Linked DNA regions of Homo sapiens. The protein of the gene in region 1 interacts with the protein of each later gene in a pairwise test. Each region holds a gene or a part of one and is shown on either strand. Other genes may lie near its edges.

What was found. Proteins that work in one complex are often made in the same cells at the same time.
Region 2: the proteins of SPMIP4 (region 1) and CLCNKA interact in binary tests that used the Homo sapiens proteins (3 or more experiments, as listed by UniProt).

What each region holds. Positions count from the first base shown.
Region 1 is NC_000007.14:25,168,848-25,177,969, forward strand, and holds part of SPMIP4 (sperm-associated microtubule inner protein 4), read right to left. Parts: intron 8,785-9,122; exon of another isoform or gene 7,993-8,784; intron 7,051-7,992; exon of another isoform or gene 6,967-7,050; intron 1-6,966. UniProt on the Homo sapiens protein: Microtubule inner protein (MIP) part of the dynein-decorated doublet microtubules (DMTs) in flagellum axoneme. May serve to reinforce and thus stabilize the microtubule structure in the sperm flagella.
Region 2 is NC_000001.11:16,031,157-16,035,793, reverse strand, and holds the end of CLCNKA (chloride channel protein ClC-Ka), read right to left. Parts: intron 4,085-4,637; coding exon 3,951-4,084; intron 3,592-3,950; coding exon 3,503-3,591; intron 3,352-3,502; coding exon 3,268-3,351; intron 2,625-3,267; coding exon 2,538-2,624; intron 2,184-2,537; coding exon 2,136-2,183; 3' UTR 1,744-2,135; downstream 1-1,743. UniProt on the Homo sapiens protein: Anion-selective channel permeable to small monovalent anions with ion selectivity for chloride > bromide > nitrate > iodide. Forms a homodimeric channel where each subunit has its own ion conduction pathway.

The sequences.
Region 1 (9,122 bases):
CCCGAGTAGCTGACATTACAGGGGCGTGCCATCACACCCGGGTAATTTTTGCATTTTTAGTAGAGACGGGGGTCTCACCATGTCGGCCAGGCTGGTCTCGAACTCCTGACCTCAGGTGATCCACCCGCCTCGGCCTCCCAAAGTGCTTGAGATTACAGGTGTGAGCCACTGCATCTGCCCATGTGTTTATTTTTAAAAACAGGTTTATTGAGATTTAATTCACTTGCCACACAATTCATCGATTTAAAGTGTACAATTCAGGCCAGGTGCAGTGGCTCATGCCTGTAATCCCAGCACTTTGGGAGGCCAAGGCAGGAGGACTGCTTGAGCTCAGGAGTTCAAGACCAGCCTGGGCAACATAGCAAGACCCTGTCTCTATTTTATAAATTTATAATTAATTAAAAAATAAAGTGTATAATTCAATGGCTTTAAAGTTTATTCACAGATAAGTGCGAGCATCCCCACAGTCAACTTTACAGCATTTTCATCATCTCAAGAATACCCTGTATTGCTAAGCCATCATCCCCTATACTCCCCACCCTCACTCTTTCCCTCGGCAACTATTATACTAATCTACTTTCTGTAGATTTGCCTATTCTGGACATTTCCTGTAAGTAGAATAATGTAACACGTGGCCTTTTGTGATGGGCTTCTTTGACTTGGCATAAAGTTTTCAAGGTTCATCCATTTTGTAGTATGTGTCCATACTCCATTCCATTTATTTATTTATTTGTTTTTTTGAGATGGAGTTTCGCTCTTGTTGCCCAGGCTGGAGTGCAATGGCGTGATCTTGGCTCACTGCAGCCTCTACCTCACCTCAGGGTTCAAGTGATTCTCCTGTCTCAGCCTCCCGAGTAGCTGGGATTACAGGTGCCCACCACCACGCCTGGCTAATTTTTTGTATTTTCAGTAGAGACATGGTTTCGCCATGTTGGCCAGGTTGGTTTTGAACTCCTGACCTCAGGTGATCCCCCCTACCTTGGCCTCCCAAAGTGTTAGGATTACAGGCGTGAGTCACTGTGCCCAGCCCTTCATTCCTTTTAATGGCTACGTAATATTCCACTGTATAGATATATCACGTTTTGTTTCACCATTCATCAGTTGATGGACATTTGGGTTATTTTCACCTTTTAACTCTCGTGAATAATACTGCTATGAATATTCATGTTCAAGTTTTGGTTTGAATACCTGTTTTTAATTCTTTGGGGAATTAAATTAGAAGTGGGTCATATGGTGATTCTGTTTAACTTGTTGAGGAACTGCCAAACTGTTTTCTACAGTAGCTGCTCCATTTTACATTCCTACCAACATTGTATGAGGATTCCAGTATCTCCACATCTTTGCCAACACTTGCTATTTTCTGTTAAAATTTAAAAAAATTATTGCCATTCTAGTGGATGTGAAGTGGTATCTAATTGTAGTTTTGATTTGCATTTCCCCAATGACTAATGATGTTGAGCATTTTTTTCCATGTACCTATTGGCAATATCTTTATTGGAGAAATATCTATTCAGATCCTTTGCATTTTTTGTTATTTGTCTTATTTTTGCGTTACAAGAGTTCTTTATATATCCTACATATAAGTCCCTTGTCAGGGATAATAGGCAGATATTTTCTCCTGTTCTGTGCAATTACTTTTTACTTACTTGATAGTGTCCCTTGAAGCAAAAAAGTTTTTTAATTTTGACGAAGTTCACTTGATCTGTTTTTCCTTTTATTGCTTGTGCTTTTGGAGTCATATCTAAGAACACAGTTACAAATCCAAGGCCATAAAGATTTATCGCTATGTTTTCTTCTAAGTATCTTACAGTTTAGCCCTTACGCTTAGGTCTTTGATTCAGGATAAGTTAATTTTGGATACAATATGAGATAAGGGATCTCATGCATCTATTCTTTTGCATGTGGATATCCAGTTGTTCTAGCTCTATTTGTTGAAAATCCTTCTTCCTCATTAAATGGTCTTGGCTAAAGATTATCTTTGGATTTTCAGAAATGGAGAGTATTGTAAAGGAATATTCCTAATCTTGTAAAGGAGCTACTTACCCATAAGTTTTATCTAGGGCTACTATAACAATGGTTCTCAAAGAGTGGTCCCTAGACTAGTTGCATAAGCATCTCCTTAGAGCTTCTTAGAAATGCAAATGCTCAGGATCCATCTCAAAACCTAAGAATCAGAATCTCTGGGGATGGGGTGCAGTAATGTTTTAAGAAGCCCTCCAGGTGATTCTTGTGCATGCTAAAGTTTTAGAAGCACTATTCTATTCAATTGTTACCTTGTAAGTTAATCATGTCTCCAAGTCCCACCCCTTACAACAGTACTATGCAGTGGACTGGCGGTTTCCTAAATTGGTTGGTAGGGCTTATCTAATCTTGAAACTGGTAGCTCAGATGATTTACTCTGCTTTTTCTTAACAAAGGAGTGAAGGGCAGGGATTCTACTGGCTCACTGTTGTAACCTTTACCCCAGTGCCTGGCACACAGGAAGCACTCAAATAATACTATTGAATAAATGAGTAAGGCCAAAGAGATGGATTTGTTTCCTATACTGCTTTCTGTGATAGAGGAATCAAATCTTCTGGTTAGGAACACAGCCTTACAAAAACACCTGCAAATGCATCTGGCAAAAGTTCTGCTTCCTAATTAGGAAGGATTTAATGACTTTCAGTTTCCAGTAATGGCGGCCTAGGTTATTTGGACCAAACTTCCCACTGAAAACAACTAAAAATACTGGGAGGAGAAAAAAAAATCTTAAAAACAACTAGCTTTTTGACAAGACAGAAAGGGATAAGTGCTACATAGAGGGTAAATAGGAACCCAGTGAAGTAAGCAAGCAGGGAAGCCACTTCTGCCCTTAGGGCAGGGCTGATCCTGGCAAATTTACATTTTTGTTTTAAGGTGAGGGATATGGAAATCAGCCAAGTGAGGAAACTAAAGGAGACCATCTACACAAGAAGCTGGGACCTTAAAATGCTTACCCTCTCATGTTCAAGGTGAGTCAGAAGTTAACCAGTTCCCCTGTGGCCCCAGTTTGCATCTACCCTAAACTTAAGCTTGGATTTAAGTGGTCCTGGATTGGTATTATGGTATATACCTATAAGGCACTTTGCAGGACAAACAGGAATCCTTTCAGTAGGAAGGATTCTTGCGGGAAATCACAAGATGTGTTCTAAAGGATGAGTAGGAGTTATCTAGAGGAAACAGAAGAAATACTGTGGCATGCAAGGGAATAGCAGGTAAAAAGGCCTAGAGTTTAATAGACTGGAAAATTCCTGACAGTGTTGACTTCAGTGTAGAATCTCTCTTAGGGAAGAATTACTTTTGTTTGGTAAAATATTCTGTTAAGCCCCTTGCAGACACAGAGACTCTGAAAGTATGGGTGGTGGTAGGAGCTCAAGCAAGCTCAGACTGATTAAACTGCTCTGCAGTGGGAGAAACTTGTTTGTTTGCTCTTGAAAGAGGGAGAGGAGAGGAAAGGGGAGTAAGGGAAGAGGGAGATGAGAGGAGCCAGCAGGATGGTGAGGCTACTGGGGACTGCACTGGTTGAAAACCCAGGGAGAAACCCTTGGCGACAGCTGGTTAAAGACCTTTTAAGAATGTGGAAGTTATGGCTAACAAGGTGTTTTGGTTACATGTAGCATGGCATGGTGTGACTCTCCTTCCTGATCCCCAACAGTTCAGTGAAGTTTACCAGGCTCACAAATGCTCTGCATGGACAAGGTCCTTAGAGAAAAATGAGGGATGACTGAGTTTCACATCTGGGTCAGTGTGTTGTTTTAAGTGGAACCAGGAACCCAAAGTCAGAAGTGACCATGAGACTTTCAAATGCTATCCCTATCCTTGTCCTGGGAACTTGGATAAATTTGGAGGAATTCCACAAGGCATGGAGTAAAGATCTGAGATCTCAGTAGAACTTACCCAGATCTTAGGGGCTGAGAAAATAGAGTTGAATTTTGAACTATATTAGAAGAGTTGATATAGAATTCTAGAACTTGGGGCATGTAGACAAGGGCCATGGTGAGAGGTGGAGCATGAGAGGAAAACAAGGACAGTATCCTGTGGGGCCTTCTAAATCCTCTGGACTATACCCTGAGAACAGTAGGATCCAGTCAGAAACATGGAGGAGAGGAAGGGGGTGGTGGGGTGAAGGGTTGGGGGAGGAGGGCGAGAGAAGGAAGGGGGAAGAAAGTGGGAGAAAAAGGGAGGGAGAGAGAGGGGGAGAGAATGGGAAAGAGAAGGGGAGATAGGTAGGTAGATAGGGAGAGAGAAGGGGAGAGACAGGAAGAGAGAGAGAGGGAAAGAGAAAGAGGTATGGACTGTGGAGCTACTTTTTTCTCTTTACCAGTACAGTGCTTGGCTTAACATAACCCCTCCTCCCCCACCTGTAATAATTGTTGAATAGAATGAAGAAGCAACACTCAGGACTATAAGTGGAATGTATTATCTTGTGAAGTCACTAGATTGAGAGTTGGCAAAGCATGGCCCATGGGCCAAATCCAACTCCCTGCCCGTTTTTGTAAACAAAAGTCTATTGGAATACAGCCATGACCATTCATTTATGGACTATATACATACGGTCTATGGCTGCTTTTGCCCCACAATGGCAGAGTTGAATAGTTGGACAGAGACCGTAAAGCCTACAATATTTACCATCTGGCTCTTTACAGAAAAAAAGTTTGCTAACCCCGCACTGGCTAGGCAAGGAGAGTCCTGGGCCCACTGATTTGGGGTGCTGCAGAAGGGATGCTGGCATTCAGCTCTCAGACCTCTACGTCCTCCCTAGCTGTCTGACAACGATCAACAGACACGATTTGGGGGACATGACAAGTGAAAAATATTTAAATGCATTTGATTAATGACAACCTAAGCTTTAATATCTAAGTTTGTAAAAGTTACATTCAAAACCTAAATGAGTCAATTTCTCAACATCTGACCCCCGTATATTACATCGTCCCCAGAAGATGAGCCGGTAGAAAATGCTAATCAATCATTTGGGCTGGCATCCACCTAAAGCTGGAAAGTTGCAGGAAATCATTTAAAATAAAAGACAATGCATAAATAAGTCATATTTCCCTCTTACTTTAAGGTATCATGTCTCCCTCCCCTTAGCCTTAATACTCACAGAATTGTAGAGAAGGAACCAAATTAAAATAAAAATTGACATTTTAGGATGTAATAATTTAGGATTTCATGATAGGATTTCATTATAGGCTCCCATTTGTTTCTGGATTCACTTCATTGCTTTCTGATTCTTAAACATTTTTAAAAAATGATAGTTATCTGCCAACTCCAAATGAGGGCTATGTTTTAATAATTTTAATGAAATTTTAAACCTTTCTCTTTCCCCCTCTCTCTCCGTCTCCCTTTCTCTCTCTCCCTCTTTTCCTCCCCCTCTCTCTCACTGTCTCTCTCACTCTCTCTCCATGTCTCTCTCCCTCTCTCTCCCTTTCTGCTAGCCCAGTAGTTCTCAATGTAAATAAAATACATCTCTATAACAAAGAGAATAATTATCAAATTATTGGTGCTACCATCTCTAGCGATAGAAAATTGTTTACTTGTTTTTGAAAAGGACACATTCCCTATAGATGAGCCAGTATTTCATTTTAAAGTCACTGTACAAGATTTTATGCATCAAACCCCAAATTCAGTAATTTAGCCAGTAACTACTAGGAGGCGTGACTAGAGAAAAGCTCGAGATAAACATGACCCGCATTTTTAGTTGGCAGATAACTATTATTTAAAAAAATGTTTTAAGAGTCGGACAACAGCAAAGTGAATCCAGAAACAAAATGGGAACTGATAATGAAATTCTATAATGAAATCCTATTATATAATGAAATCCTAAGCAATTCTCAAGGCACTTCCTTAATGGATATGTTTGTTTGCCCTGTGAGCTGAGAGAACTTGCTAGAAGTTAAGGAGAAGTCAGCTGAATGAAAAAGAGGATAGGAATCTTGATGATTTTGAGTAGCTGTTCCTGCCAGTTAAATTTTCAACAGAAGAAATGAGAAAAAATTACCACCTGTTTATATACTTAATATTTTTAATGGAGATCAAGCAAGTTTATATAAAATAGTGGCTAGCATAATTGTCCCAAAAAATCCACTTGAGTAAAGTAATTAAAGTGTAGCAACTAACTTGCTCTTGGTCATCAGGTAAGCCAGATCCATAGTCCTGGTTTTCTTATATTTTCAGTGCTGCTAGCCCAGTAGTTCTCAATGTAAGCTGAAAAACTAAAAAATGCAGATTCCCTTGCACCCCCTCAGACCTGGGGAGTCAGAATGTCCATATATAGAGGCAGCCTGGGAATCTGTTTTTCTAGAAAGCTCCTCAGGTGATTTTGAAGTACCCTGTCTGTAGACCAGTCCTGGGTAACAGGGGAGCTAGGCCGTGTCACCTATTTTTGTATTGTTTTATTTTGTTTTGATTTTTGAGAAAGAGTCTCGCTCTGTTGCCCAGTCTGGAGTGCTGTGGTGTGATCTTGGCATACTACAACCTCTGCCTCTAGGCTCAAGTGATCCTCCCACCTCAGCCTCCCAAGTAGCTGGGACCTACAGGTGTGAGCCACCACACCTGGCTAATTTTTGTATTCACCTCACCTATTGTGAAAAGAAAAAAAAAGTAGGCTGATGTGAGGAAATCGTTTTGCGTCACTGTTAAAACTGCCAAGTGAGTGCCATGATGGCTGCATCTAGGTTGTAGGTATGGCCTACATGATCTAAGTTGTACCTGGATACATCATGATATTGAAAAAGGGTGTCCCTTTAAGTACATCTGTGTTTAGAAAATTAAGCTGCTGAGTGCAAACGTATGCTAGGGCTCACGTTCACCCTTACCATTATGAAGGTAATCCTGAAAAACCAGGGGCTTTCTGTTTTGTATTGTTTTATTTTGCTGTTGAGATACCTTGTGATTCAAATTGGGAGCCACGGACCCTGCACTTGGTCTGAAGAAGTGAGGCTCAGCAATGATAGAACAGAGTTACCACCAGTATCCTGTTATCACCGTCCAGAGCCGTTCCATCACTAACACTGAGAGGAAAGACACTCTTTTGTAAGCTGTCTGGCTGCTTTTTAAGAGGGGGTTAAGAGGAGGGGTTCTGAGAACACATGATCATCCTGGTTTTCTTAATCTGGTGATTGTGAAAGGAAAGAATTCACGTGAAATAAAAGGGAAAGCAAGTTGTAGTTATTAGGAGCCAGGAGCATGGTTATACCTAGATAGAGCTTCAAATAATACCTTTTTGTAGTTTATAGTTGGCCATATATCGTGTTGAATTTTATAGTCAGTTAACAAAAAACGTGCTTCTCTTAAATTTCATGCCAGTTAAGGGTTTTGGAGCTGATCACTAACCAACTATAGGACCGTTTAGGTAGAGGGGATCAACATTTCAGTGAAAAGCCTTTGACAGTGCTTTTTGATGGTGCATTCAGATATGGCAGCCCTAAATTCTTGGATTCCTTTAGGCCAAATATAAAACCTCACATTGCTGTTTTTGAGCCAGGGACAACTGCCCATTCCCAGATCACACACAATCCACTAAGGGTTTTATTTGACTCAAGGGAAGCTCTGCCTAATGTGATAACCCTTGGAGTTGAACAGGAATTTAGGGCTGAAAACCACTCTTGTGAATCAGGTCAATGGTAGAGGAGTAGGGGCAGCAAGGACTGACCCAGAAGTGACAAGAGCTCCTTTTCCTCCAATACAAGAATATTTCTTTTCATTAAGTGAAAATAGCAATTGATTTAAAAAATGTTGAATATGATCTTTACATTTAAAAAAATTGGAGAGGACACATATTAAGATGTTAACACAGTGGTTATTATCTCTGGATAAAGGAAATATAGAGGGCTTCTTTCCTGTGCTTCATTTTCATAATTTTTCTGTTGGAAAAATAAAGAATTTGTTTTCCTTACAAATTTCTATGATTTCTACATTATGAGGAATGTGTGTTAGTTTTATAATTACGGAAAAATCATTCTTTTTCTTTATTAGTATAAAGAGCATGTTTGTAAACCGGAGAAGATCTGTGGAAGTCTGATCGAGATGGTGAAAGGCTAAGCGCAAGAAGAAAAAGGAGCTGAATCTGTGAGAATCAGTGTTTAGTCTGGCAAACAGAATTCTCACATGGGACAAGAGAATCTTCAGATCTTGAAGGGCTGCTAGCATGGGATGATGAATGACTATTCTGCATAGCTTCAGAGGGAAGAACCAGAATCAGCAGGCAGAAATTACAAGGGAAAAATTGTTCACATTAGAAAGAAAATGATCTAACAATCAGGAGCATTCAAAAATGGAATGGACTGCCTGGTGTGGAAGTGCTATCCTTTTTGGAAGAGTTTAAACTGAGGCTGGGTGACTTCCCGTCTGGTTTCCTAGAGAATTCTTAAATGATTGGGAGGCTGAGGCGGATGGATCACGAGGTCAGGAGATCGAGACCATCCTGGCCAACATAGTGAAACCCCATTTCTACTAAAAATACAAAAGAATTAGCTGGGCGAGGTGGTGTGTGCCTGTAGTCCCAGCTACTCAGGAGGCTGAGGCAGGAGAATTGCTTGAACCCAGGAGGCGGAGGTTGCAGTAAGCCGAGATTGTGCCACTGCACTCCAGCCTGGCAACAGAGTGAGACTCCGTCTAATAAAAAAAAAACAAAAAAACAAAAAACACAAAACAAGTAGACAACCACTCAGGCTATTTTTTCACTGTCCAGGTGTTTTGAGGTGTTTTTTCCTTTTCCTTTTCTCAAAATGATTCAAGTAAATACAATACAGGAAATGCTGACACTAAGATCTTGGCAAATTACTTGTGTGTATCTGTTATTTCATATGTAAAATGCAGATAACAGTAGTACTTATAGGGTTGTCATGAGGATTAAAAGAATTACTACATACAAAGCATTTGGTAGAGTGCTGACACACAGTAATCACTAGATAGGTGCAATTATTTTCATTGTAATTTTTTTTTTTAAACTTTTTTTCTAGGTTCAGGGGGACATATGCAGGTTCATTATACAGGTAAATTGCATGTTGCAGTGGTTCAGTGTACAAATTATTTTGTCACCCAGGTGATAAGCATAGTACCCAAGAGGTAGTTTTCTGATCCTCACCTTCCTCCCTCTCTCCACC
Region 2 (4,637 bases), on another chromosome or scaffold:
AGGAGCCTTGGCCCTGGGGGAAGCCTGCACTTAGTCCTCCTGCCCCAAGAGGGACGGGGAGGGGACAGAGGCCCAGAGCAGCACTGGCTGTCCCAGTTCTCAGAGAGCACAGGCTGGCTCCAAGCCCACTCTTAACTCCTCCGTTTACTGCCTGGAGGAGGAACCTGGGACTCAGAGAGTTTTGGTGACTTGACCAAGGTCACAAGGCTCGGCAGTCACACAGCTGGATTTGGAGGCAGGTCTTCTGCCCCTTGCCCTTTCTCACACCCCCAGAGAGGGAGGGCGAGGAGCTGGATCCGGGACGCCATTCCCCCATCACCCCCTTGCTTTTCCAGATCTGGAGAGCATCTACCTTCAGGACAGCCTTCCCAGCGGCCCCTCACAGGATGACAGCCTTCAGGCCTTCTCCTCGCTCAGCCCCTCCCCTGACAGCTGTCCCTCACCTGAGGAGCCCCCCAGCACCGCTGGCATCCCGCAGCCCCCCAGCCCAGAGCTGCAGCATCGGCGGCGGCTGCCCGGGGCCCAAGGACCCGAGGGTGGAACCCACCCCCTGGGCTCCCTCCCCTCCATGGACAGCGGCTCCCTCTGGGAGGAGGACGAGGTGTTCTATAACTGAGGTGGGGGCTGTGCTGGTCCAGCACCTGCTCTCACCATGACCTCGCCTGGTGGGCAGCCCAGGCATATCTGGACCCCGGGGTCCAGGGGAGGGCATCTCTTGACCCTTCGGGTAGGCACAGGGTAGGTGCGGCAGGGATGGGGCCAGTGCTCATGGTGGCCTCTCTGTGCCTCGGTGGACCTGCCCCAGCAGTGGGAGCCATAACCCCCTCCCCCTTCATTACTTCACTCAGGTGGGCACCTTCCCCTGCAGGGTGTCTGCCCTCAGGGAACTCAAGGACTCTCAGAGACACCAGGGCAGCCTGGCCCAGAGGAGCAACAGCCAGGCCCCCAGGAGGACAGCCATGGAGAGAATTGAGACCCACTTACAGTGGGGTCTGGGAACCCTGCCTTTACCTGGGGTTCAGTCCCTCCCCACTCTCTCTGTGTATCTGCCCCCCAGCAAAGGTGGGGTGACCACTTCTGGTAGCTAAGCACCTGCTCCCCGGCTCTCTTCACCCAGGACATCTGTCTCTCTGGAGTGTCTGTCTGTCTGTCCCTCCCTCTCTGAACCTGCTTCCTCCGTGTCCCCTGCTCCTCACCCCTGGGAGCCCACTCCCCCTCCTTGCAGCTCCCTCCCATCTCACTCAAGTTTCTTTGAGGACATTAAAGTGGTGGATTCACCCTGGATGACCTTGGCCTGGTCTCTGCTGGGGAAGATGTGACCTTGGGCCCCTGGACAGAGTCCGGAGGGAGTCAGGGGGGATCCTTAACCCCAACACATACACAGCCGGTCAACCTGGGCCACCCAGGCATAGAAGGCTCATGGAGGATGCCCAGGGCTCTGTGGACTCCAGAAGGAGCCACACTTCGGTCCTGGCTTTATGAGCTGTGGCCCAGCCAAGCAGGAGACTAGGGTTTGAGTGACACAGTATCCCACTTATTCATGAGGACAAGCATCATAGACCTGGTGGGAGAACCTCTCTCCCTATCATCTCCCTGCCAAGAAATGGAGCATGAGGAGGAGCCCAGGGGCCCGAGCCTGCAGTGCCCACGTGACCACGGGAAACTCACTCTGGGCCAGCGCAGGTAAGGAGCTCCAGTCCCAGACCAGCAACCTTGCAGCTGAGATGAGGGATGGACAGCAGCTCTGGGAACCAGCTTTATTTTTCTCAGGAGCCTCTCACTGGGAACCAGACAACCCCAGAGGGCATCTTTGCCTGCCCTTGGTGACAGTGTACTCCAATCTCGTCATTCATTAATGTGATGGCCAGTCACTGAGCACCTGGCAGATACTGGTTTTCCATCTTCTCACACTCAGCTCTGCCCAAGGTGGGATTTTTGTCTTTCAAGGCAGGAGCCATCGTCCCACCCAGGATGAGCCATCCTCTTCTGGGCTAGGTTAGAGTTGCCTGTTATGCCAAAGAATGGAGCTGGGCTGGAGGGAGGGGCAGGTGGTGATGGGGGAAGAGAAGCAGGGTCTCAGCCCAACCTCAGTACCAGGTCAGCTGGGGTGCCCTGTTTCATCTTGCTGGGCCGGCTCACTTTGGAGCTGGCGGATTTGTCAGGTTGGAAATTGCTTTCTTCATCTAGAACAGAGAAAGGGGGTGGAGGTGGGGGGGGATGTAGAGGAGGTTGTGAGGGGGGCTCCAGCATTTTTAGTCCCCTAAGGTTCATTTCCAGGCTGAATAGTAGAGCCTGTGCCACCCCATTGCACAGATGGGATCACTGAGGCCGAGAAGGGCAGGCTGGCCACTGGCCAGAAAACAAGGTAGGGGAGCCAGGCCCAGTGGCCAATCTGGGCCAGAAAGAGGGACTCATAAGTATCCTCTGAATCCCCCCAGGTTTGGATGGGAGCATGCTGGTGTCCCCCCACCTCCCCATCTCCCCAGCCTTCTCAGGCATGGGTCCCCTGCTTTGCTCTGCCCCCGGGACCCTGGTACCTCCACCCAGGACACGCAGCCCACAGCTCTGCCCCGCGATGTCACGAAGAGGGACTGAAGGTTCAACAGCTTAAAGAGGTTTTGTGCCTGGATGGGGGATTGTTAGGAAACACTGGAGGGTAGATGGCGCCCAGCCCACCCTCTGGCCCACTCTGCCACGCCTCTGAGCCAGGAAGAGGGGCGGGGCCTGATATGTGTGGGAGGCAACAGACCCAGGCCTGCAATGTCCAGTGTGGGCCACTGGGGGATGCCAGAGGCCACTCAAGGGTCTGGGCGGGGCTGCAAGTGGACAGGACCCAACATCCAGCACCCTCCAGCAGCACAGAGGGGGCGGGGCCATCTCCAGGTCCCCTGTCAGCCTCCGCCCTTGCCCCATCCTTGTGTCAGGCTCTGTCTCAACTGGCTACATAATTTGTCCAAGATCACACAGGCAAAATGGGGTGGACCTGAAATTGAAACGCACGTGTGCCTTGGTGCAACTCCACTGTCTTTCTCCACCCAGAGACTTCCATTTGCCAAGCCCCCCAATTCCCTCATCTCTCTGCATCATCCCCGCAACCCTGGCAGTGAGGGGCGACGGCAGGAGCTGCCCTGTCCAGGCCCAGGAGGAGCAGGAAGCAGGATAAGATGGGCGGGGCGGGGTTGGGACGGGAGGCTGGAGCCTGAGCTCCTCATCAGCTCTTGCCCTGCCCCGGGGGCTGCGTGTGTCACACTCCCCAATACTTGTTACCTGGTGCAAGGTGGTCTCTGAGAATAGCGTCAGGGTCACTGGTTCCGTGGGGCAGCCCCTGGCCAAGATGTCCTGGAGACACTGCTGGGAGTGGGGAAGAGTTATGGGTGCAGGGCCGGCCTCCCCAGGATGCCTCTCTCAGACCACCTCTCCCTCAGGAGATCAGCGGGTCCCTCCCCTCCCATCCCTGCTGACCCACCCCCGCCCCATCCCCACGCCCCTCAGGAGTAACCACCTGGTGTCCTGGAGCCCTGGAAGGAGGCTCAGCCTGGAGGGCCTGCACCAGCTGGGCCCTCTGCACGATGCCTACCAGGATCTGGGACTCTGGCAAGTAGAGAGGGAGAGGGAGGGAGGTGCATTATGAAGAAACAGGCCTGAGGGCCAAGCTTCCGGAAGACCTTGGTGGTGTCCCCATGCTCCTACCCCAGCAGCTGCCCAGGGACTGCCTTACAAGCACCCAGCCGACTCTCTTTAGACATGTCAACCACCCCAAGGGAGGGTAGCCATGATTTCCATTTTGCTGATGAGGAAACTGAGGCTCAGGTGAAGTGACTTGCTCAAGGTCACACGGTTGGTTGCTAAGTCACAGAGCCTGGATGCAGATCCTGTCTGCCTGACAGGTTCAAGAAGGAGGCAGAGGGCATCCCCTACCCCCGACTTCCTCCTCCCTTCCAGCTGGGCACCTGTGCTCTCCACCAGGGGATACTCGGTCACGTCTGTGGAGGTCACAACCTTGACCACCTCCTCCAGCGGCGTGTCCTTGGCCAGTGTGGTGATGCTGTGGTTCATGAAGTGCTCCACCCTCACATGGTGGGAGCTGCAGGCAGAGGGGCTCCCATCAGGTCCCGGAGTCGGGGATGTCAGACCCAGGCCAGCAAGGGGATCTGAGGGGAGCTTTGCTTGAACCAGGGACCCACGGCTCTGGAGTGTGAGCAGGGCTGGAGAGGTTCCTGGAATGAGGGACTCCTAGAACCCACAGTGGGAGGAAACCTGGGGACCACATTACTGATGGCCCAGTTCCAAATCCCCAACCCCCTGGTCCCCCATGTCCCCCAGACCAGCTTCACTTGGGTCTTGTCCCACCTTGGACAGAGCTGAGTGTGAGATGACGGAAAACCAGTATCTGCCAGGTGGTCAGTGACTGGCCATCCATTAATGAATAATGAGATTGGAGTACAGACCCAGCAGCCTTCCCTGGATAATTCCATTTGATTATAAAAGTGTATGTCACCCCCAAGGAAAAACTTGGAAGGTTGAAAATCACTGGTATAAACAGCCCCATTTTCCCGATGGGGAAACAGGTTCAGAGCAAGGCAGCAGCTTGTTTGTGTTTGGAGCGGGGCCTCCGATTCGGACTCTCAGAGCCTCTT